Linked DNA regions of Homo sapiens: region 1 is linked to region 2. Evidence: fine-mapped expression QTL. A gene starts in region 2. The other region holds a variant in brackets. All regions are shown on one strand. Distances are from middle to middle. Region 1 overlaps SYN1 (synapsin I). Region 2 holds the start of ARAF (A-Raf proto-oncogene, serine/threonine kinase).

Region 1 (11,925 bases), 47 kb after region 2:
AAGTGAGATTTAGCCTAGGAATGCAAATGTCTACACCTAGACACATCATAAACAAACTTATGAACGTATCAACTTGCATGAAAATCAATTAATGTACTACATACCATATTCATAGAATAAAGGACAAAATTCACACAATCATGTCAATAAACACAGAAGAAGCATTTGACAATGTCCAACATCCTTTCACGACAAAAATACTCAACCAACTAAGAATAGAAGGAGAAATTTGTCAACACTGAGGTAGCAGTTAATATATGCCAGATGCATTGTTCTAGACACCTTACATTTACTAAGTAATTTCATTCTCACACCAACTATATGAGGCGGGAACTATTATTACCTACATTTTGCAGATGAATAAACTGAGGTACAGGGCGTTTAAGTAACTTTTCCTGTGTTAAGCAACTAATAAGTTGTGGAGGTAAGATTCTTATACAGAAATTCTGGCTACAGAGTCCATGCTCTTAATCACATTCTGCTCTACTGTCTCTCAAAGAATGTAGACTAATAATAATGATAAACAAATTGGGTTTCCTTAAAACTAATGATTCAAGCCGGGCATGGTGGTTCATGCCTGTAATCCCAGCACTTTGGGAGGCCGAGGCGGGCAGATTGAGACCATGCTGGCCAACATGGTGAAACCCCTTTTCTACTAAAAATACAAAAAGTAGCTGGGCGTGGTGGCACGCACCTGTAGTCCCAGCTACTCGGGAGGCTGAGTCAGGAGATTCGCTTGAACCCAGGAGGCGGAGGCTGCAGTGAGCTGAGATTGTGCCACTGCACTCCAGCCTGGCGACAGAGCGAGACTCCTCCTCAAAAAAAAAAAAGAAAAACTAATGATTCAATCTTTATCTGTAAGTAAACTTAACTTACAACACTGTTGACGTATATCAGTGATCATAATTTGTAGTACTGGTAAGAATTGCTAATATTAGTAGCAATGTTTATTTAATCAAGTTGATAGTGTTGGGTCAATATTTATATTTAATTGTAATTTTAGTCATAAAATTGGTGATGATCATTTATATGAGTAAACATAATTTGTAATATTGGTAAAAATTGACAAAATTACTTATACAATTTGATTGCATTAGTAACAATTATTTAATTTCTATTTGTAACTAAAATTTGATTCATAACTGTGGTACTCATAATTTATATTAGTAATCAAAATTTTAATATTAGTGATTTTTTTTATAATAGCAGTTAGAATGTTAACCATATTAGTAATTATTTCTATTAGGAACTACAAGATAATTCAAAACACAGGTACTCATGGGTTATATTAGTAATCTTAATTTGTAACACTGGTAATAGTTATATCTGTAAAAATTTTTACACTGTTTGTACTAATGGTTTAATTTTATTTACTTATTTATTTAATGTTTTGAGACAGGGTCTCACTCTGTTGCCCAGGTTGGGATGCGGTGGTGCTATCATGGCTCACTGCAGCCTCAACCTCCAGGGCTCAAGCAATCTTCCCACCTCAGCTTCCCAAGTAGCTGGGACTACAGGTGTATGCCACCATGCCGGGCTGATTTTTAAATTTTTTGTAGAAATGGGGTCTCGCTATGTTGCCCAGGCTGGTCTCAAACTCCTGGGCTCACGAGATCCTCCCACTTTGGGTTTAAATTTTTAAAAAATAATTATAACAATTTACAACATAAGTACTAATCATTTATAGTAATAAACTTAATTTGTAACACTGTAATGCATTGTAATATTAGTTGTTATATTTGATGATATTAGCAATGATAATTCAATTTCTATTATTTAAACGTTCAGCATATTTTATTCTGGCACATTGTAGCCCAATGACCCAACTGTGGTAGTCTCCACTGCATGCCATGTTTATGTAAGTCAAAACAGGTACTTATAATTTATATTAGAGCATAATTTGTAATAGCAATAATCATTTGTAATAACAGCAATAATCTTTGATGCTATTAGTAATGATTATTCAATTTCTACTAGAAACTATAATTTAATTCATGACATAGGTACTCATAATTTACAACAGTAAAAATAATTTATAATATTAGTGATAATTTGTAATATTAGTGATTATATATATATATATATTTTTTTTTTTTTTTTTTGAGATGGAGTTTCGCTCTTGTTGCCCAAGCTGGAGTGTAATAGCGTGATCTTGGCTCACCACAACCTCCGCCTCCCGGGTTCCAGCGATTCCCCTGCCTCAACTTCCCAGGTAGCTGGGATTACAGGCATGCACCACCACGCCGGGCTAATTTTGTATTTTTTTAGTAGAGACAGGGTTTCTCCATGTTGGTCAGGCTGGTCTCAAACTCCCGACCTCAGGTGATCCGCCCACTTCGGCCTCCCGAAGTGTTGGGATTACAGGCATGAGCCACCGCGCCCGGCCAGTGATTATATTTCATAATAGTAACCAAAAGTTCAATTTCTATTAATTAATTAATAGGAGGGAGGCTGAGGTGGGACTCTGTTGCCCAAGCTGGAGTGCAGTGGCGTGATCTCTGGTCACTGCAACCTCCAACTCCCGGGTTCAAGTGATTCTCCTGCCTCAGCCTCCCAAGTAGCTGGGACTACAGGCACGCACCACCATGCCCAGCTAATTTTTGTATTTTTAGTAGAGACGGGGTCTCATTATGTTGACCAGGCTGGTCTTGATCTCCTGACCTCATGATCTGCTCACCTCAGCCTCTCAAAGTGCTGGGATTACAGGCATGAGCCACCGTGCCTTGCCAACAATTTAATTTATAACATTATTATTGATAAATGTTATTGGCAATCCTAATTTGAATATAGGTAAAATTTCTATCAGAAGGAATATTTGATAATGTTAGTAATAATGACTTAATTTCTATATGTAATATATTCTGATTCATTACATTAATTCTGTCAATTCACATTAGAAATAGGTTTTTAATACTGGCAAAAATAGACAACATGAGTAACAGGATCTGATACATATTAGAATGGATCATGATTTAGTTTTCCTTGTAAGCATAAGGAAATTCACGGTAGACCCTATCACAAAGCAACTTCATGACTCCACGTGCACACAGCAGCCACACTCTTGATATCGCACTGCTGATAATATACCAATATTTAATATTATTGCAGTAGTTATGACTCTTCCCTCCTGCCCACTCTATTTTCCCCAAACTCACCATTTCTTTGTGATTGGGGTAGAAGGTCTGATCAATTAGAGGGAATTCTTCTGTCCCCAGTTTCTTATGCAGTCGAACCATCTGGGCAAACTATGAGAACCAGGAGAGCTGGGTCAGTGAGTCCTTCACCACGAATCTGTAAGTTTCTGAACACCCTCACTTCCCCAAATCGCAGACTGGTTTCAAGCTCCCACATACATGCATGAGCTGTTCCCTCTGCCAGTGGCACCCTTCCTGTTACTTACCACCCAGGGCTTGTCACAGAAGTTGTAGACAGAATGCAAGGAGTTAACACTGGGGATTCCAGCATACTGCAGCCCAATGACCAAACTGCGGTAGTCTCCGTTGCGTGCCATGCTGAAGGCGTGCTGGCGGATCAGCACAAAATCCGGCTTCAGAGACCTAGTGTGGCAGGGGTAGGAGTGTTGAGAGTTCCCCCAGAAGCTCCCAATCACTCTCGAAACAAAGACCAAGTTTTTAAATCTCCATAGCTCCCAGAAATTGCAAAGTGGTTTCTCACCTCTGCACACATGTGTGAGCTGTTCCCTCTGCCTAGTGCACCCTTTCTACCCTCTGCCCACCTGGTGATCCCCTTTAAGCCTCTCCTACCTGTTCCCTTCTCAGCAAGGTCAGCTTGCAGCTTACCGACACAGCTCTGACAACTCCCTGGTCACCATCTCTCAGACTGCAAGCTGTCTTCAGTGTTCTGCCCAGAATAAATTCTAACCTTGGGACCTTTACCAAGGCTGTTCCATCTGCCTAAAGCACTTCCCCCCTAGATATCTGCATGGATCACTCCTTCACCTCCATCAGGTCTTTCCTCAAATGTCTCTCCTGCAACCAGGCCACCCTATCCCAACTGCAGACCCCACCATCATCCAACAATTGCTACATCTGCTTTAGTGCTATATATATATTTTTTTCTTTTTTTTTTTTCTGTTGAGACGGACTGTTGCTCTGTTGTCCAGGCGCTGGAGCAATCATGGCTCACTGTAATCTCCGCCTCTCGGGTTCAAGCGATTTCCCTGCCTCAGCCTCCCGAGTAGCTGGGATTACAGGCACCTGCCACCACGCCTGGCTAATTTTTTTATTTTTAGTAGAGACGGGGTTTCACCATGTTGGCCAGGCTGATTTTGAACTCCTGGGCTCAAGCAATCCACCCACCTTGGCCTCCCAAAGTGCTGGGATTATAGGCATGAGCCACCACATCCGGCCACTGTTATGTTTTTTCTTAGCACTTTTACATTTTCTTATTTATTTGTGTATTGTGTGTATCTCACAGTAGAATGTAAGTTTCATAAGGCCCAGGTTCTTTTTCTTTTTTTTTTTTTGGCCTTTCAGCATGTAGAATATCTCCTGGCACACAGTAGGTGTACAATAAATATTTATTGAATATGAAGTCCTGAGAGCAGCATCTGGCATGCAGCAGATGTCTAGCAAATGTTTATTTAATTAATAATTGAAGGCTGGGTGTGGCGGCTCATGCCTGTAATCCCAGCACTTTGAGAGGACAAGGCAGGTAGATTGTTTGAGCCCAGAAGTTTGAGACAAACCTGGGCAACATAGTGAGGACCCCCCCCATCTCTACAAAAAACATAAAAATTAGCTAGGCATGGTGGTGCGCACCTGTAGTCTCAGCTACTTGGGAGGCTGAGGTGGGAGGATCACTTGAGCCTGAGAGGTTGCAGCTGCAGAGAGCCATGATTGTGCCAGTGCACTCCAGCCTGGGAGACAGAGCAAGACCCTGTCTGAAATATATATATATATATATATATTTTTTTTTAAAGTCTGACTTGTGGCATCCTGGGGTCCCTGGCTCTTTTTCTGAAGAAAAGTTGTCTCCCCACATTCCATGCCTAAGTTCTTGCCCACAGAAGGATGGGTGGGGAGGTAGGAACTTTCCCCCAGCTCTAAGGGAGAGTTCTTATGCCTTGCTCATAACACCAAGGTACCCTTCTTATACTCACCGCACGACCTTCACCCC[A/G]TTCCGAAGAACTTCCATATCCACAGAGAATCCACCATTGGCATGGGCCACAAGGTTGAGATCAGAGAATTCGGCCTGGGAAGGAGAAAAAAACTGGTGATTCACCTACATCACACAAAAATGGCCACTCAGTTTGCAGTATGGACAACTGACCCCCAGGTCCAAATGTCCCAACTTACCTGTTCTACTTTAATGTCAATTTCTCCATGGATCTTTTTCCCTTTGAAGTATTTTGCCCTGGAGAGGAAAAACAACACATCTGTCAATGATGAAATCTCAGAAGGGAAGACAAAACACAGGCCCTTGACCCTTTTGCCCCTTCAATGCTACTAAAGAAACCACAAAGTGCCTTATAATTATTGAAATATTTTGAAAAAATCAAGAGTGCTTTGTGAATAATGTCTGTTGTAATCCTCATGGAGTTGCAAAAATATTAAAGGACATTGCAAACTGTAAAATGTGGCCTTACACTGCAGAGAGCAGGTATTTCCCAAAATTTAGTCTGCTCATCACATTGTCATTGTAAATTTTTTAAAAAAACTTCACAAAATTAGCAGCACTATGTAAATTAGAACATACTTTGAAATTGCATGGAGACCGGTAAACAGCAAAGAACCTTAGAAAACACCTATCTGGCCAGGTACGGTGGCTTACGCCTGTAATCTCAGCACTTTGGGAGGCTGGAGGTAGGAGGATTGCTTCAGGCCAAGGGTTGGAGACCACCCTGGACAATATAGAGAGACCCCCATCTCTACAAAAAAAATTGAAAAAAAAAAAAAAAAAACAAAAGCCGAGGGCTGTGGCTCACGTCTATAATCCCACAACTTTGAGAGGCCAAGGCGGGTGGATCACCTGAGGTCAAGAGTTCGAGACCAGCCTGACCAACATGGTGAAACCCCTTCTCTACTAAAATACAAAATTAGCCAGGTGTAGTGGTGCATGCCTGTATTCCCAGCTACTTGGGAGGCTGAGGCAGGAGAATCACTTGGACCCAGGAGGCGGAAGTTGCAGTGAGCCAAAATGGTGCTATTACACTCCAGCCTGGGCAACAAGAGCGAGACTCCATCTCCAAAAAACCCAAAAAACAAAAACTAGCCAGGCATAGTGGTGCATGCCTGTAGTCCCAGCTACTGGGGAGGCTGAGGCAGGAGAATGGCTTGAGCCCAGGAGGTCGAGGCTGTAGTGAGCCGTGATTGCACCACTGCACTCCAGCTTGGGGAACAGAGCAAGACCTAGGCAAAAAAGAGAAAGAAATAAAGAGAAAGGAAGGAAGGAAGGAAGGAAGGAAGGAAGGAAGGAAGGAAGGAAGGAAGGAAGGAAGGAAGGAAGGGGAAGGAAGGAAGGGGAAGGAAGGAAGGAAGGAGAGAAAGAAACTACATTTCTCTGAAGCGTGCCTGTTTTTGTGTATTTTTTAGTGCCTGTGTATATGTCAGTGCCTGTGTCTGGCTGTGTGGCCTGAAGCATCTCTCTGCTCTCTGGCCCTTTCGCAAGGAGGAGCACATTCACCATGTGTGGTTGTGTGCTGTGAGAAACACAATGGCCATAGGTGGGCAGCTGCATCCGATAAGGAGGAGTGGATTGAGTGGTGCAGGCTGGGTGGCTCTAGAGAAGCCAGTGTAGCTGGCAATGATGGGGGGCAGGGAGGAATGCAGCTGAGGAGGAGAGGGAGCAACAGGAGGGAGGGGGAGTGGGAGCAGCAGTAGGAACATCACGAACTGCTATGTCATTGTCCCCGGGCCCGTCCCCAGCTGGGCTTGGTTTCCGGTGGCCTCCTCCCCCAGGCTCAAGATTTCTAGCCAACAGGCTGCTTGCTCCAGGGATGGAAGCTCATCCTCAATCAGGTTTATCATGGAAGGGGGATGAGGGGGAGAGACACTTTCAGGGCTACTGGTCACTGACACACATACAATCAGGGTCTTGGACAGACACACACACACACACACACACACACACACACACACGGCACAAATGGACCCTGGTGACTTGACTGACATATGCAAGAGACCCCAAGTACAGCTACTTCTTTTTCCTTGCTCTCTCTCTGACACACACACACACACACACACACACACACACACCATCGCTGACACTATCCCCTCAGAAGTGTTGAGAGAGAATCTCTCTCAGCCCTGCACATTTTTCATCTATAAACTGATGAGTGGGGATGATGAGGGTGTATCACTGTTTCTAAAACTTTTCTGACCATAAGTGTAGTTGGATACTGTGGTGGTCTGCTCAGGCCTCCTCTTCAGGGACAATGTACCTTGAATGGCAGCTACTGACAGCTCATGGCTGTGTCCCCACTGGGAATTGTCTTGTCACAGGGAACTGCCTTGTCCAAGGTTACACCTACTTCATGAGGGCATCCCCATGGTCTGGTCTATGAAGGGAAAGAAAGGCCAGCCTCCTTGCCTCAATCTGGGCTGACTCTGAAGGACCCTCCCAGCCCCAGGGCTCCCCCTAAGAGCAGCGGAGGCCCCTAAGGCAACTACATCTTGAGCCAGCCTCTTCCTCTGCTCAACCCAACCCTCCTCACAAGTGTTGATCCCAATGGCACACTCCAGTAAGCCTCCTGCATGCAAATCTCCACCTCAAAGTCTTTTTCCAGGGAACCCAACCTAAAACAGTGGGCCATGGAAGTCAAACTACAAGGGTGGTCTAATGCAATTCTGGAGCTGGGTTACCCAGCAGCCAGATGGCAGTGAGGACCCATCAGTAGTGGGAGGTGGGGCATAGATAGCCTCCGATATGCTGTAGCAACGCAAAGTGCTCTGCAGCAGGTCCGGGCTGTGGTGCAAGCAGGATGTGACTTAGGCCATATGATCCAGCAGATCCTATGACACTGGAGGTGTCAGTAGTAGGAAAAGATGCTGTGTGGAATTTCTTCTCCCAGGTGGGAGAATACAGCGCAGGCCCCCAGGGTTTTGGAGTAGCGGTGACTTTTCCTGATGGTGGGCTGTAATGGGATTCTGGTGGAAGGGAATGTACTGGATGGTGAAATATCCCTGGAACTTGAGTGATGTCAGGGAAATGGTAACCAGACTTGGGTGACTATTCCCTAAACGCCATTGAGTAGCTGAAGAAAGACCTGACATGCTCAGGGTGAATTCAAGGCAAAATGTGAAAGCCAGAGGATCTCCCTGACTGCATTTAAGGAAACCCTCATCTCCTGCAGTCAGAGGGCAGACAGAAGGGAGGGCCAGGCTCAGAATTTAATTCTACGTGGTGGCGGAGCTTCGGAGAAAGTTGACTTCTCAGGCCCAGCACATCTCCTGGGCCATGCTCATGTCCCTAATAGGACAGGAGTAGGACTCTGAGATGGGGATATCTGGGCAGATGCAGTTAAACACCTTGAACTTACAGACTCACCTGCATCCACTGGGCCTGCTGAAGTAGACTACTCCCCTGAGTTAGAATATAGACCTTCTGCTTGAAGATAATGCAGAGGCCTCGGATGATGCAGGTGCTTTGTAAGACAATGCCTGCCCCCCTCAGAGTCTACCCCCCACCTACCCTCCTGGAAACCAGACCAAAAATTAGGGTGAAATCCTAGTGAAACCTGACTGGACAGGTTCTAGGCTTGCAAAGGGAGAGAAATGATCTGTAGAAGAACCTAAAGAATCTGGCTAGTACGTATTGGCAGGAGCTGGGAAGGTATGCATGAGACTGGATCCTGAGGACAATGGGCGAAGGAGGTAGAACAGGAAGTTGGTGTGCTCTCCCAGGATACGGAACTTAAAACCCTGGCGAGGACTCTAGGAAGTGTTACTAACACACTGGTATTTGGAAACCTGGAGTAAACAATGGCCCACACTAAGTGAAGCAGAACTTCCATGGCAGATTGCACAGGGAAGGATTAAAGGGCTCAAAGAAGCAGACATGTTGGAGTAGATATACTACTGAAGTCTGGAAAACCCACCAGCTGATTAAGGCCTGGAGGATACACTCAACTTATGAAATTAATAAGAAACATGCTGGTGAGGGTGGTACCAGTCACGCTGAGAAGCACAGTAGTGGTAAGGTGATAAATGAGTCCTGGCCCAGGTCCTGCTTACAGTGGGTCTGGTGGGTCTAGAGACCCACCCAGTGGTCACTTCCTCAGTTCACAAATGCGTAATTGCAATGGCATACTTTGTAGTTGTCAGAACCCCTACATGGGCTCCTCAGCCTGTGGGATAAGAGCTGTTTCAGTAGGGAAGTCCAAATAGAAGCTTCTAAAATGGCGCACACCCCCATGCCCTGAACAAAACAATAAACCACAAACAATATTGTGTGCATCCTATGGGTGATGATGGAAATCAATGCCACATTGAAAGATCTAAAGGATGCAGGGGTGTTGGTCTCATCTTATCTCCATCGAGTTGAGCAGTCTGGCCCCTGGAGAGGTCAGATGGGTCCTGGAGAATGCTTGCAGATTACTGCAAGCACAATCAAGTAGTACCCTTAGTTATACCTGCCATACTGGACACGCTGTCATTGCCAGAGCAGATTAATAAGACCTCAGGTACAGCAGGTGGCTGCTGACTTGGCAAATGCATTCTTTTTTATTCTGATTAGAAAAAAGGATCAGAAACAGTTTACACTCACATGAGACTGATGATAATATTCATAGATGGTCTTGCTGTAGGGCTATGCTATCTCTCTCACCTGGTGTCATAATATAGTCCAGAGAAACCTGGACTATCTGGACATCCCATGGAATAGCACACTGGACCACCACATGGATTACATCATACTGATTGTGCAAGATGAGCAAGAGAGGGTGAGCATATTGCCCTGGTAAGACACATCCACTACAGAGGGTGGAGGATAAACTCCACAAAGACTCAGGGGACCGATGCATTAGTAAAATTTTTAGGAATCCAGTGGTCCAGGGCAGTAAACCAGGACAGCCCCTCCAAAGAATAGAGCAAAGCATTGAATCACGCACCTTCCACCATGAAGAGGAAAGCACAATACCTAGGAGGCCTCTTCCCATTCTGGAGGCAGCATGTCCCCCACACACAAATAATGCTCTGACCCATATTCCAGGCGACATGTAAAGCTACCAGCTTTGTGTGAGGGCCAGAGCAGAAAAGGGCTCTGCAGCAGGTCCAGGCTGTGGTACAAGCAGTCCTGCCATTTAGGCCAGATGATCTGGCAGATCTTATGATACTGGAGGTGTCAGTAGTGGGGAAAGATGCAGTGAGGAGCTTATGGGAAGCCTGAGTGGGAGGCCCTTGGGGTTCTGGAGCAAAGCCATGCCATCTGCAGCAGAGAATTTTACGCCTTTTGAGAAAGACACCCCATTGAGGTGCTGGGCCCTGATAGAGACAGAATGCTTGACCAGGCACCAAATGATTGTGCATCCAGAAGTTCCCATTATAAGCTGGGTCCTGCTGGGCCCGCCAAATAATAAAGTCAGGTGGGCCCAGCAGTCAGGATTGAGCCCAAGCAGAACCAAGCAAGGTGCATGAGCAGGTAAGTAACCCTGATCCCCATGTCTTCCACACTGTTGTGCTAGTGCCTGTCTCACTAAGGGGACTCCTTAAAACTAGCTGATGAAAGAGGGAAAGGTCTAAGCTTGGTTCACAAATTGGTTGTCTTAGTATGTGGGTGGAAGCCAAAAATGGGCAGTGGTTGCACTATAACCCAACTGGAATGGCCTTGAAAGACAGTGGCAGAGCTCCCAGTGGGCAGAGCTTCAGGCTGTGCACCTGCTCATCTCCTTTGTGCAGAAAGAGAAGTGCCTCAAGATTAGAATACATATATCCACTTATGGGCAGTGGTAAATGGTTTGGCTGGTTGGTCAGGGGCCTGGAAATAAAAAGACTGGAAGATCCAGACAAAGAGGTCTGGGATACAGAAATGTGGGCAGACACCTAGGAGTGGGCAAGAAATGAGGAGTGAGACTGGGCGCGGTGGCTCACGCCTGTAATCCCAGCACTTTGGGAGGCCGAGGTGGGCGGATTACCTGAGGTCAGGAGTTCAAGACCAGCTTAGCCAATGTGGTGAAACCCCATCTCTACTAAAAATACAAAAATTAGCCGGGCGTGGTGGCGCACGCCTGTAATCCCAGCTACTCGGGAGGCTGAGGCAGGGGAATTGCTTCAACCTGGGAGGTGGAGGTTGCACTGAGCCAAGATCGTGCCACAGCACCAGCCTGGGCAATAGAGCGAGACTCCGTCTCCAAAAAAAAAAAAAAAAAAAAAAAAAGGGAGGAGCGAGGATCTTTGGATCGTGTGTTAACACCCACCAGACAGCATCTGCCATGGCGCCATGGAAGTGACACTAGGCAACCAGGTAGACAGCATGAGTCAGCCCGATGATGTCAGCCAGGCTCTAATCAGCCACCCCAGTGTTAGCAGATGGGCACATGAATAAGTGGCAATAGCAGCAGAGAGAGAAGCTATGTGTGGGGGCAGCAGTGTTACTGCTGAATGTCCAATCTGCCAGCAACAGAGACTAACATTGAATCCCTGACACGCCACCATCCCTCCAGAAGGCCAACCAACCACTTTGTGGCAAGCTGATTAGATTGGGCCCCTTCCATCCTGCAAAGAACAGTAATCGATTTTGACTGGAATATTCCATATTTGAGTTTGCCTTTTCTTACTGCAGGACCTCAGCCAGCTCACTGTCTAAGGGCTTACATAACGTTTGATCCACCAGCACGAGACCCTGCATAACACTGCGTCAAACCAAAGGACACACTTTATAGCAAAGTAAAGGAATGCAAAGCAAAGGAGGTGCAAAAGTGGGCCCATGACCATGGAATTAACTGATGGTATTACACACCACGCCACC
Region 2 (11,925 bases):
GGAATAAATGTGTAAACCTTGAGAAAATTTTTACAAAGTGTATTTCTGATTGAAACCAAAAGAAGACATTTCAGAATTCCTTGTTTGGTGGAAATGCTTTTTGTTTCTTTGTTTAATTAATTACACTTTAAAAATAATTGCTGACCATACTGAATTGCAATCCCTACCAAGGGAGCTACCAGGGAGGGAGAGAGGTGTCTGTCACTGTCCATGGCATCTTAAAGGTTGCCCCCACTGCTCAGTGTTTGTTTATGGGTTCATATTGATCCCTTTGCTTAACTAGTAAATATTTTCCTATTTGAGAAATAATCATACTTAGCACAGAATGTCCTCATCAGAGTAAATCTTTAATAATAAAATTATACGACTGTTATTTGGTTTAATCATGTTTTTCCACTCATCTGATCCTTGGGTTTGGAAGTGGAAAATATATCAGCCTGCACTTTTTTTTTTTTTTTAAAGGAGTCTCGCTGTGTCGCCCAGGCTGGAGTGCAGTGGCGTGATCTTGGCTCACTGCAAACTCTGCCTCCCGGGTTCACACCATTCTCCTGCCTCAGCCTCCTGAGTAGCTGGGACTACAGGTGTCCACCACCATGCCCGGCTAATTTTTTTGTATTTTTAATAGAGAAGGGGTTTCACCTGTGTTAGCCAGGATGGTCTCGATCTCCTGACCTCGTGATCCACCCGCCTCGGCCTCCCAAAGTCAGCCTGCACTTTTGTTTAATTTTATGAAAATATGGAGGTACCCTATATAACATATAATGAACTTAAAAAAAATAATTAAACAGGCCGGGCGTGCTGGCTCACGCCTGTAATCCTAGCACTTTGTGAGGCCAAGGTAGGCATATTGCCTGAGCTCAGGAGTTCGAGACTAGCCTGGGCAACATGGTGAAACCCCGTCTCACTAAAATACAAAATATTAACCGGGCGTGGTGGCGCACGCTGTAGTCCCAGCTACTCGGGAGGCTGAGGCAGGAGAATGCTGTGAACCCGGGAGGCAGAGCTTGCACTGAGCCGAGATCTCGCCACTGTACTCCAGCCTGGGCGACAGAGCGAGACTCTGTTTCCAAAAACAAACAAACAAACAAAACAAAAAAAAAAAAAACACAAAAAAACCCCCAAAACTCTGTCTGTTAAATGGTGTGTTTTTCATAGGGATAGCAAATTGAAATTACTACTCAATGAATTTTGCTAAGAAAGACTTTTTAATAAGAACAGTTAAAAAGTCATGGTTAAATTCACTTACTTGTAAATTTCCTACACCTCTCCCCCCAGGGTTGTATATTAAAAATCCCTTCTAGGAATGTACAGAAGTGGAAACTTCCACACTCTACTTTTATTAAGGATTTCGATGGAACAATTACTGTTGCCTCATCACTGATTTAAAAGCAACATTAAGTTCCTTGTTTGTAGCCGGTCTCAGGCCCACACACCTCCCATTGGCCACCTCCTGTGCATAGCTATTGGTCTGTCAGTGGCTCCGTGGTGAAGTAGAGCCTATCAATGCCCAGGGTATCCCAAGGCCCGCCTTCTACTGCACTGCTATTGGCAGATCTCGCTGCCTGTTGGGGGGGGCCTGTTGCGGAGAGAGGCTCCCTGGGTTGGCAGAGAGGAGCTGGTGGTTGAGGGGCCTGAGTCAAACCTGTGTTCCCGGTCTCAGAGAAATGTGCATGCACGGTCAACTCCCCCGAAATGAACAGCTGAGAGGACGGCGGTGGGAGGGGGTCCCAGAGATGGCGCTCTCCAGGCCGCAGCAGGGGCCGGTGAGGTCGGCGGCTTTGGAAAATGAGAGTCGCACGTTTTAGAGGAGGTCCCCAGGCACGCAGGACTGCTGGGTGGATCTGGGATTCCTTAAGGAGGTGCCCATGGCCCGCACCCTTGTTAAACACTTTTTATCAAACGAAGTCCTGGAGCACTCTCTCCTTTTCCCCTCTGGTTAGGGCAGCCTGAACCTTAATGTCCTCAGCTATAAAAGTAGCATTACAACGGCAGTCGGTGAACACTTCAGATTTTAAAAAATTTTCAGACATATTTCTGAGACTTTAAAATGAACAACAATAAAAACCAACAAGTACTTTGATAACTTTACATTTTTTTCCAGATGGATAATTACAAGGGGGATGTCAGAAAACTATAATCAACTAGTTTGGGTTTTAATTTTTGTCTTAATACATGGTACTTCTAATGGTTTAAATATGGTGGTGATGATAATGACAAAAAGTCAAAAAGGCCAGGCGCTGTGACATGCGTCTGTGGTCCCAGCTTTCTGGGAAGATGGCTTGAGCCCAGGAGGTCGAGGCCGCAGTGAGCTGTGATTGCACCACTGCACTCCAGCCTGGGTGACAGAGCGAGACTCTGTCGCAAAACAAAAGAAAACCAAACCTAAATCACTTTAAAGGACTTCATGCTTTAAAGTGTCAGGTACCTGTAAGGTACTTGGCTGAAGTGCCAGTTGAGATGGGTGTGAAGTGAGTCTATGAGTCCTTGGGGGAGAAAGCATTGCCTTTGAGTGGGCTATGTCCCCTACCCTTCCCCTCCTTCCCCCATCCTGCAAAAGCAATGAGCTTTTGCTGGCATTTTTCTCATCTTTTTGTAAACGTTGAACGATGGAGCCAGAGGTCTGTCTTCAAATACTGCCTAGAAATTAAAGTTTTTAAACAAATTAAATATTTAAGTGAATTGAAATGTAAAATGCACTCCCCTATTCCCCTCCCCAAAGCCCCTCACTGAGCTCCAAACAGGAGTTGTTCCTGACCCCACTGGCACTGAGGTGTTTGCCAGGGCTCCTGCAGTGGGAGATGGAGATTCAGGGTCTAGGGATTTAATTTCAGAAAAAAGAATTTTTTCAAAATAATTTCTCTAACCAATAAGAATTTCTAAGAAACAAATGTTTAGAATTATGTTTGTGGCCTTCTTCTTTTTTTTTTTTTTTGCCATGCAGTTCTTATTCTGGTATATTACACATAAAGCAAAATATATCCATTTTCAGTGTAGAGTTCAATGAGGCTGGGCAAGGTGGCTCATGCCTGTAATCCCAGCACTTTGGGAGGCCGAGGTGGGAGGATCACTTGAGCCCAGGAGTTTAAGAACAGCCTGGGCAACATAGTGAGACTCCATCTACACAGAAAATTTTAAAAATTAGCTGAGTGTGGTGGTGCATGCCTGTAATCCCAGCTACTTGGGAGGCCGAGGTGGGAGAATTACTTAAGCCCAGGAGGTCAAGGCGCAGTGAGCCATGACCGTGCCACTGCACTCCAGTCTGGGTGACAGAGCCAGACTCTGTCTCAAAAATAAAAAAAGATAATAATAAAAATAGAGTTCAATGAGTTCTGACAAATGCATACAGAACATTCCAATCACCTGCAAAAGTTCTTTAATGCACTTCTCAGTCATTCTCCCTCAAAACAACATCTAATGTGATTTCCTTCACTATAGATTAGTTTTGCCTGGTTTAGATTTCATATGGGTGGAATACAGTATTTCTCTTTTGTGTCTGGCTTTTTTCATTTTGCCCCATGTCTACGAGATTCATCTATGCTCTTCCTATATGTCAGTAATTTATTCCCTTTCATTGCTGAGTAGTATTCCATAATCCCATTGTTGTATTTTTTTGTCAGTTCTGTTTCTGGACACCTGGGCTGTTTCCAGTTTTTTGCTATTAAGAAAAAGCTAATCTGAACATTTGCATACAAGTTTTTGTGCAGACATATTGTAATAGTAGCATGTTGTAGCTGGCTCACCAGAGCGGATTTTGTGCATCTCTTTTAAATCTGGTTCAGCGACTGTCATATTGGTAGCCTGAAATAAGCCATGGGGACAGTACAAATTAGAGCTGTTTTCTTCCTGGAGCGTTGGTTGTCAAACATTTACCAGCACACCATTGGACATGTGTTTTCATTTCTCTAGAGTAAATACCTAGGAGTGAGATTGCTGGATTGATTGCATGGCAGGTCTATGTTTAATTTTATATGAAACTGCCAAACTGTTTCTAAAGTGCTTGTGCCACTTTACACTCCCAATAGCAATGTATGAAAGTTCCAATTGCTCTACATTATCATCAATACATAGTATTGTCAGTCTTTTTAATTTTATCCATTGGAGTTGGGCATGGTGGCTCATGCCTGTAATCCTAGAGTGTTGGGAGAACGAGGCCAGGAGCTCGACACCAGCCTGGGCAACATAGTGAGATCCTGTCTCTAAAAAAAAAAAAAAAATTTTTTTAGCCATTAAATGGTGAAGATCCGAATAGAAAAGTGGAGTTGGGGCCAGGTGTGGTGGCTCAAGCCTGTAATCCCAGCACTTTGGGAGGCCGAGGTGGGCAGATCACTTGAGGTCAGGAGTTTCAGAGCAGCCTGGCCAACATAGTGAAATCCCGTCTCTACTAAAAATATAAAAATTAGCCAGGCATGGTCGTGGGCGCCTGTAGTCCCAGCTACTCAGGAGGCTGAGGCAGGAGAATCACTTGAACCCAGGAGGCGGAGGTTGCAGTGAGCCAAGATCTTGCCACTGTACTCCAGCCTGGGTGACAGAGCAAGGCTCTGTCTCAAAAAAAAAAAAAAAAAAAAAAAAGAAAGAAAAGAAAAGAAAAGAAAAGGGGAGTTGGGAAATGGAAATTATATGGGAGGCCAGTAGGCAGAACTTCTGTCTTCCTTCTTATAGACAGAGAAAGCCATGTGATAAATACAGATTGAAATATGTTGAGGCCCCCCCTCACCTATGACCTTCCTCTGATCTTTCCCATTACATTGCCAAAGGATGCTAAATCTCCAAACAGGAGAATGCAGTCACTTGAAACACAACAGGCCATTCATGGTGTTGGGGAAATAATTAAAAAGAGAATCTCGTGCCAACCCAATGAATCCTCTCCACAAAGTAGACAAGAATGAAAAGTTTTTTTTTGTTTTTTGTTTTATTGAGACAGGGTCACTCTGTCACCCAGGCTGGAGTGCAAGTGGCAAGTGGCGTGATCTCAGCTCACTGCAATCTCTGTCTCCTGGGTTCAAGTGATTCTCCTGCCTCAGCATTCTAGGTAGCTGGGATTACAGGCGCGCGCCACCGCGCCCAGCTGACTTTTTTTTTTTGCATTTTTAGTAAAGACGGGGTTTTGCCATGTTGGCCAGGCTGGTCTCGAACTCCTGGCCTCAAGTGATCCGCCCGCCTTGGCCTCCCAAAGTGCTGGGATTACAGGCATCAGTCACCGCACCCGGCAGGAATGGAAAGTTTTATAACTGAATAAGCATTACACCAGACTGTGATGCACATCACAAACAATCTGCTAAAGAGGTTTCAAAGACAGAAAGAAATCTCATCCGTTTATGTAGCAGGCAGATACAGCCCATTACAAACATATTCTCAAACAATAACTTGTGCTCAAGAAACTTGACGGCACCATTTGGTACACATACTTCATCCCAAATTCACCTGGTAATTAGGGTGGCTATCTGTGTTAGTTAATTGCCTTTATCCAAAGGAAAACGAAAACTCATATCTCTATGACAAGCAGGTAATAACTTGAAGCCAGGCACGCAGATCAAATTCCCACGAAGACAGGGAAAGACAGGGGTGCTATTTTCATTGATGTTTACATTTCAAAGAGATGGCTACAAGGCTCTTAAGAAAAACATTCCGGGGATGTAAAACTGGCAAGAGATTTAGCTTTTAAAAGGACTTACATACATCTCAAAGGGACAGAGAAAATTTTACAGTTACAAGTTTTCTAAAGGAAATGCTCTAAGAGAGACGTCTTTCTCTTTTGACACCAGGGAAAATTCGATCTTTAAAAATTTGTGTTTACCCCACAATACCTCCACACATTGACTGGCATCGTGCTCCCTTCCAGGTCCGCACTTCCCTCTTCACCTGGCCACCTGTGACTAGTTTTTCATAGTCCTAATCAACCCCATTCCTAAAGGAAGCCTCCCAGACAGCAGGCCGCCCCTCCTAGGCCCAGTCCCCCAGCCCCCGCCACACCAGAGACCCGCTGTCCTCAAAGGCTATGAACTACAGTCTCCTAGAGCTGGTGAACATCGCCGATCATTGGTTCTGATTCCAACCCATTTCAAAGATGGTAAAAACTGAGACACGGGAAAATCATAAAAGGGTGCTTAGGGCACTGGCCCAAAAAGGGTACTTAAGGATTTCTCCGCCCAGATGCCAAAGCCCTAAGGTCAGCCCCAAATGACCTGTGTTCTGCTTTATACGTCTATGCCACTGTTGGGGTTAAAGCCCTAGGCACGCAGGTCTTGCCTCAACTGCGCCTGCGCGAGTCAGGACGAGCGCTTGCCCCAGATCTTGACGTTTCAGGCGGCCCCTCCTAATCCGGAACACGACTCACATTCCGTTGGTCTTGCCTTGACAGACGTGACCCTGACCCAATAAGGGTGGAAGGCTGAGTCCCGCAGAGCCAATAACGAGAGTCCGAGAGGCGACGGAGGCGGACTCTGTGAGGAAACAAGAAGAGAGGCCCAAGATGGAGACGGCGGCGGCTGTAGCGGCGTGACAGGTGAGGGCGGGCCCGGGAGGGCTCGGTTTCTGGAGCGGCTGCCGGGCACGGGCAGGGAGCCCGGACCGAAAGCTCAGCTCCAGGATGGCTGCGCCTGGGCCCCGGCGTTCCCTGCCCGGAACCGGAGGAGTGGTTTGACCCGGGGCGAGACCATCGTCGACAGCGGGGGTGGGGTGGGTAACAGGAATAGGCGGGCAAGGCTGCGGGTGATGGTTTCGCCCGCTGCTAGTGGTGGTGCGCCTGCGCAGAGCCGGAAGCCCTTTGGTAGGCGGGACCCGACCGAGTGGTGCCGGGATTCCGTCTTAACCCCCGCTAAGGTGTCCAATGACCTTTCCTTACCAACTGCGGGGAGTGTGTGGAAACGCGGTTCACTCCCCGGTTTCCTTATTCTGGATCAGTGTCTGACCGCCCCCGCCGGGAGAATGTCAGGATTCTCGCCTCTGTAACCGCCTTCCATGATCCCTCATTCAGTTTAGACCAGTAATATGCCTGTGACCCCTCACAGGTTGTCAAGGAGAATTTTGGAGCTCCCTCTTTACCTCCATTTTTCTCCCCGCAACACCATACCTTCCTTCTCCTTTTGCTATGACAATGTCTGGTGGTCCACCATTACCTCCCCAGTTCGGCTCAATGTCTGGTCATTTCCATTTCCACCCTTCTCCCCATTACAGTCCCTAGTGACGCCTGTTACATCTCCCTTCCGCATAGTATGTAGTGACCCCCCCCCCCCATGAATTCCTCATCATAGAGGCTTGGGACTTCCATTAGCCACCTAACAACGGTGTCTGTGGTCCTAACATCAACATTACACCCCAGGGCTTAGGGATGTCCACAGTGCCCTTTAAGGACATGTTTGGTGCAACCTCCATCTTCCCCAAACTAAGGGCAGTATCTGATAATCCTCTCTTTCCCATCACCGTGCCTGCGACTCCTCCCTCACCACAGTAACTGGCATTTCCCCCGTTCTCTGTTAAAAAACCAGGACACTTTGGGAGGCTGAGGCGGGTGGATCATCTGAGGTCAGGAGTTCGAGACCAGCCTGGCCAACATGGTGAAACCCCGTCTCTACTAAAAATACAAAAAATTAGCCGGGCGTGGTGGCACACGCCTGTAGTTCCAGCTACTCAGGAGGCTGAGGCGGGAGAATGGCTTCAACTTGGGAGGTGGAGGTTGCAGTGAGCTGAGACCATGCCATTGCACTCCAGCCTGGGCAACAAGAGCGAAACTCTGTCAGAAAAAAAAAAAAACAGAAAAAAAAAAAAAAAAAACCCAGGACATTCTGTTCGTGCTTCTTATGTACCTGACGGCTCAGTGCAGTGTGTACTGACTTCCCCATTGGTCCCCAGCACAGAGTCTTGTGTGCTCCTCTACCCTCCAAGACAGTATGCTCTGTCCCCCTTCCCTGTTCTCTCCCCCGCAACCCTGTGCAGTGAAGCTGAGACCTTGGCACTCAAGAGTGAGACAAGCAACAGGAGGGCCTGAGCAGAGAAGGAACTGGAAGGACTTCAGATGTGAGCAGGATCTCTTGGACTGTCGTGTGAAAATTAGGCTGCAGGGGGCGACAGGAGCCTGGACTTTGAATTTTATTTTGTCCCCTGCCACTTTGCTTCTAGACTATCATTATTGGACCTCTGAATTCTTGTCTGCCTTCTTGTAGGAGCCCCATGGCACCTGCCCAGCCCCACCTCAGCCCATCTTGACAAAATCTAAGGCTCCATGGAGCCACCACGGGGCCCCCCTGCCAATGGGGCCGAGCCATCCCGGGCAGTGGGCACCGTCAAAGTATACCTGCCCAACAAGCAACGCACGGTGGTGAGTCATGGAAGCGAAATGGCAGGGGCTGTGGATGGACCCAGTTGTAACTCTGGGATCAAAAGGGTGACAACGGTTGGGGGAGGCCTTTGCAGAAGGATGGGAACATCAGCTGCGCTTCTGTTGGGCATTGAGGACCCCTACATCTGCACATACACACAGGTGACTGTCCGGGATGGCATGAGTGTCTACGACTCTCTAGACAAGGCCCTGAAGGTGCGGGGTCTAAATCAGGACTGCTGTGTGGTCTACCGACTCATCAAGGGGTGAGTGTGGCAGCCCCACGCCCACCCACTGGGTGTCCCACCTCCCATCCCCTCCTCAGTCATTTGATTCCTTCTGTACTTTATCACAGAGTCTTCCATTAGTCTTCCCTTAGTCTTTAGTCCCCCCTTATCTGCAGGGTACATGTTCCAAGACCCCCAGTGGATGCTTGAAACCATAGATAGTACCGAACCCAATTGCTATCAGTCGGAACATGTTTCTATTCTTGTCTTCTACCCATAAATGTAATGCCTTTTCCGTCTTAACTAAGCACGTATCATGCACTCCGGCCATCACTTTTGCAGTTTGAGGTATGACATCAAAACTAGCATGAATTTATTTTTCCTTCTTCACAATTCCAAAGATGGAAGATTCTTTCTTACAGTAGATCTCAGCAACCTCAGCATATGATTTTCTTTTAAGTCAAGAACTTTTACCTTTTTGCTTAAAGGAAGCACATTACAGCTTCTCTTTGGCATGTCCGAATTGCCACCAACACTACTCTTGTGCTTTTGGGCCATTATTAAGTAAAATGGCGGTCACTTGAAGACAGCCACTATGATATTGAGTCAGTTGTTTGATAACTGAGCAGGCTACTAAGTGATGGGCGGTAGCGTAGACAGTGTGGATCTGCTAGATAAAGAGGTGATTCACATCCTGGGTGGGATGGTGCAGGATTTCATCACGCTACTCAGAATGCACGTAATTTAAAACTTATGAATTGTTTATTTCTGCAATTTTCAATTTAATACTTTCCCACCCGGTTGACCACAGGTAACTGAAACCATGGAGAGTGAAACCACAGATAAGGGAGGACTACTGTAGTTCAAGTAATCTATGAGTTCATCCATCTTTTGTTTTGTTACTTCATTGGTTTATTGGCCTGTAAGGTCAGCAACTCATTCTCCCCTGGCCCCCAAGTCCTCACCCTGGTCCATCACTTCTGCCCAGATTTCATCTATTTTGTCCTTTCACGATGTCATGACTTCATCAGGTCTCTTCTTCCTCATTTTCCCCATTCTCTGTCTGCTGAGTTGGGTCTTGCTGACTTTATTTATTCCTCTCTCGTGGGTTTCCTTAATTTATGATGCAGTTCACACACTGCACTTTATTTGTTGTTTCAGTGCCTCCTCAGCCCCCTTTTCAGGGGCTGGCTTAGCGCTTCTAAGATGTAGTTGTTTAGTTTCATTTGCTTCTCCCCTTCCGTTTCAGAGCATGGACTCTTCACACCGTCATGCCTCTCATTACCCTTGTGGCCCAGGGCCAGTCACTTTATCCCTCTGAGCCTGTTTCCCCATCTGTAAAGTTGGGGCAAGGATAGTGACTAATTTCTAGAGTTGCTGTGATGAGAATTAAACATGCCAGACATGACCCTGTGGGTAGCAGGCTTGGAGGGACTTGTGGGGGTTCCCTGCCTCCCCATGGCCCCTACCCAACCTCCCACTCATTCCTTTCCATGCCCCCTGCAGACGAAAGACGGTCACTGCCTGGGACACAGCCATTGCTCCCCTGGATGGCGAGGAGCTCATTGTCGAGGTCCTTGAAGATGTCCCGCTGACCATGCACAATTTTGTGAGTGCAGGGTGGACGGTGGGGGTGGACCATGGTTGGGGGTGTCCTTGACCAGGTCTCAAACTTCCCTGCTCTGTGGCATCAGGTACGGAAGACCTTCTTCAGCCTGGCGTTCTGTGACTTCTGCCTTAAGTTTCTGTTCCATGGCTTCCGTTGCCAAACCTGTGGCTACAAGTTCCACCAGCATTGTTCCTCCAAGGTCCCCACAGTCTGTGTTGACATGAGTACCAACCGCCAACAGTGAGCCCAGCCTGGGGTGGGTGGGGGGATGGGGAGCACAGAGGCCCAGCCACGAGGCCCTTACAGACAGCTGACCCGTGTCCCCTTGCTTTATACCCTTCATGCCCTCAAGGTTCTACCACAGTGTCCAGGATTTGTCCGGAGGCTCCAGACAGCATGAGGCTCCCTCGAACCGCCCCCTGAATGAGTTGCTAACCCCCCAGGGTCCCAGGTAGGGATGCCTTAGCTGAAGAGCTGCTGGGGGAGAAAAAGATCTTGGGGCTCTTGTAGACCACGAGCCATACTTTATTCATTTGTTTACTTGACAAACATTTATTGAGCACCTACAAGTGTGAGTAAGGGCATGAAACTGGGACCTTGGGCAAGTCACCTCATTTCTCTGGGCCTCAGTTTTCTCATCTGTAAAGAGGGGATGATGATACTTTCTACCATATAAAGGTTCTGGTGAGGCTTAAATGAGTTAAGACATGTTCAGTGCCTAGAACAGGATCTGGTACAGTGTAAATAATCAATTTTTTTGTTATTAATTATAAATATATTTATAAGCATCTAACTACTTTGCTAATTCTAGTATAATCATACTCAAGCCTTTCCATTTTGAAATACGTATTATTTTATCATAAATTACTTCCCTTTTATTGCTTTTTTATGTTAAATATTATATAAAACTATAGCTATATTAAAATATATTATTGCTCTAATATATATTTTATGATGTGCATATTTTATGGTATATTTATGTTATTGTATCATGTTGTATTACATAATTTTATATAATGTAGAACATCATACATGTTTATATGATACATAAAATAAAGTTAGGGTATTATTTTAAATTATGAGTGTATGTGCATTAATTACCTTTGAGTTTCATTTCAGGATAGTGAAGGGAACATTAACATATTTTTGTAACTTTACAATATGTTTAGCATATATCATATGTATAACATGTATGTATAACAATATGGTAATATGTATATTTTAAAACATTGCCATTTTTATATAGATGATACATATTATATAACATTTGAAAAGTACATGTAATTATAATATATAATTATAAAATATGATACATTACCCTTTCCCCACTATCTGTGTGGCCTGCTATCCTGCCTTTAGGCGTTTACTCCATTGTCATCTCCTCCTCAGAGAAACCTTTCCTGACACTTTCTAGGAACACTTTGTGTCTCCTTATTTTGCTTTACTATTTTTCTTTATTGCACCTATCACCATCAGGCATATTATATATTTGTTTTTTATTTCAGCCCCACCAGGGCAAGAACTGTTATTTTGTTTTACAGTTTTATCTCCACCACCTAGAATGGTATCTGGCACACAGCAGGCACTCAATAAATGTTTCTTGAAGCAATGAATAATAGTACTGCCAGTGGACATTCGCTCTGTGTGAGCCAAATGCATGTTTATGGCTGGGGGTGGGGTGGGGGGCTTTCTCGGTTCTCTGATTCCTGGCAGTGATTTCACAGCCTTTCCCCTGGCAGCCCCCGCACCCAGCACTGTGACCCGGAGCACTTCCC

The links. PIP is the estimated chance that this variant, and not a neighbour inherited with it, causes the effect.
Region 1: its variant is the best candidate, but not a certain one, in a credible set for the expression of ARAF in whole blood (TOPMed, PIP 0.71).

Annotation. Positions count from the first base shown.
Region 1 is chrX:47,601,823-47,613,747 of GRCh38, forward strand. It overlaps SYN1 (synapsin I), which reads right to left. Exons shown (of 13, transcript NM_006950.3): 2 at 5,319-5,376; 3 at 5,123-5,214; 4 at 3,401-3,557; 5 at 3,156-3,245. Among named protein-coding and RNA genes, the nearest start is that of SYN1, 12 kb to the right of the region's middle. The variant A/G (reference allele first, on the strand shown) is at 5,140.
Region 2 is chrX:47,554,750-47,566,674 of GRCh38, forward strand. ARAF (A-Raf proto-oncogene, serine/threonine kinase) reads left to right here and starts at 6,456. Exons shown (of 16, transcript NM_001654.5): 1 at 6,456-6,502; 2 at 8,160-8,314; 3 at 8,477-8,580; 4 at 10,048-10,150; 5 at 10,236-10,390; 6 at 10,503-10,601; 7 at 11,890-11,925. The coding sequence starts at 8,219. LOC124905184 (a long non-coding RNA gene) reads right to left here and starts at 6,690. Exons shown (of 2, transcript XR_007068225.1): 1 at 6,335-6,690; 2 at 1,187-3,798. RefSeq lists enhancers at 1,297-1,798, 9,081-9,375 and a silencer at 6,523-6,822.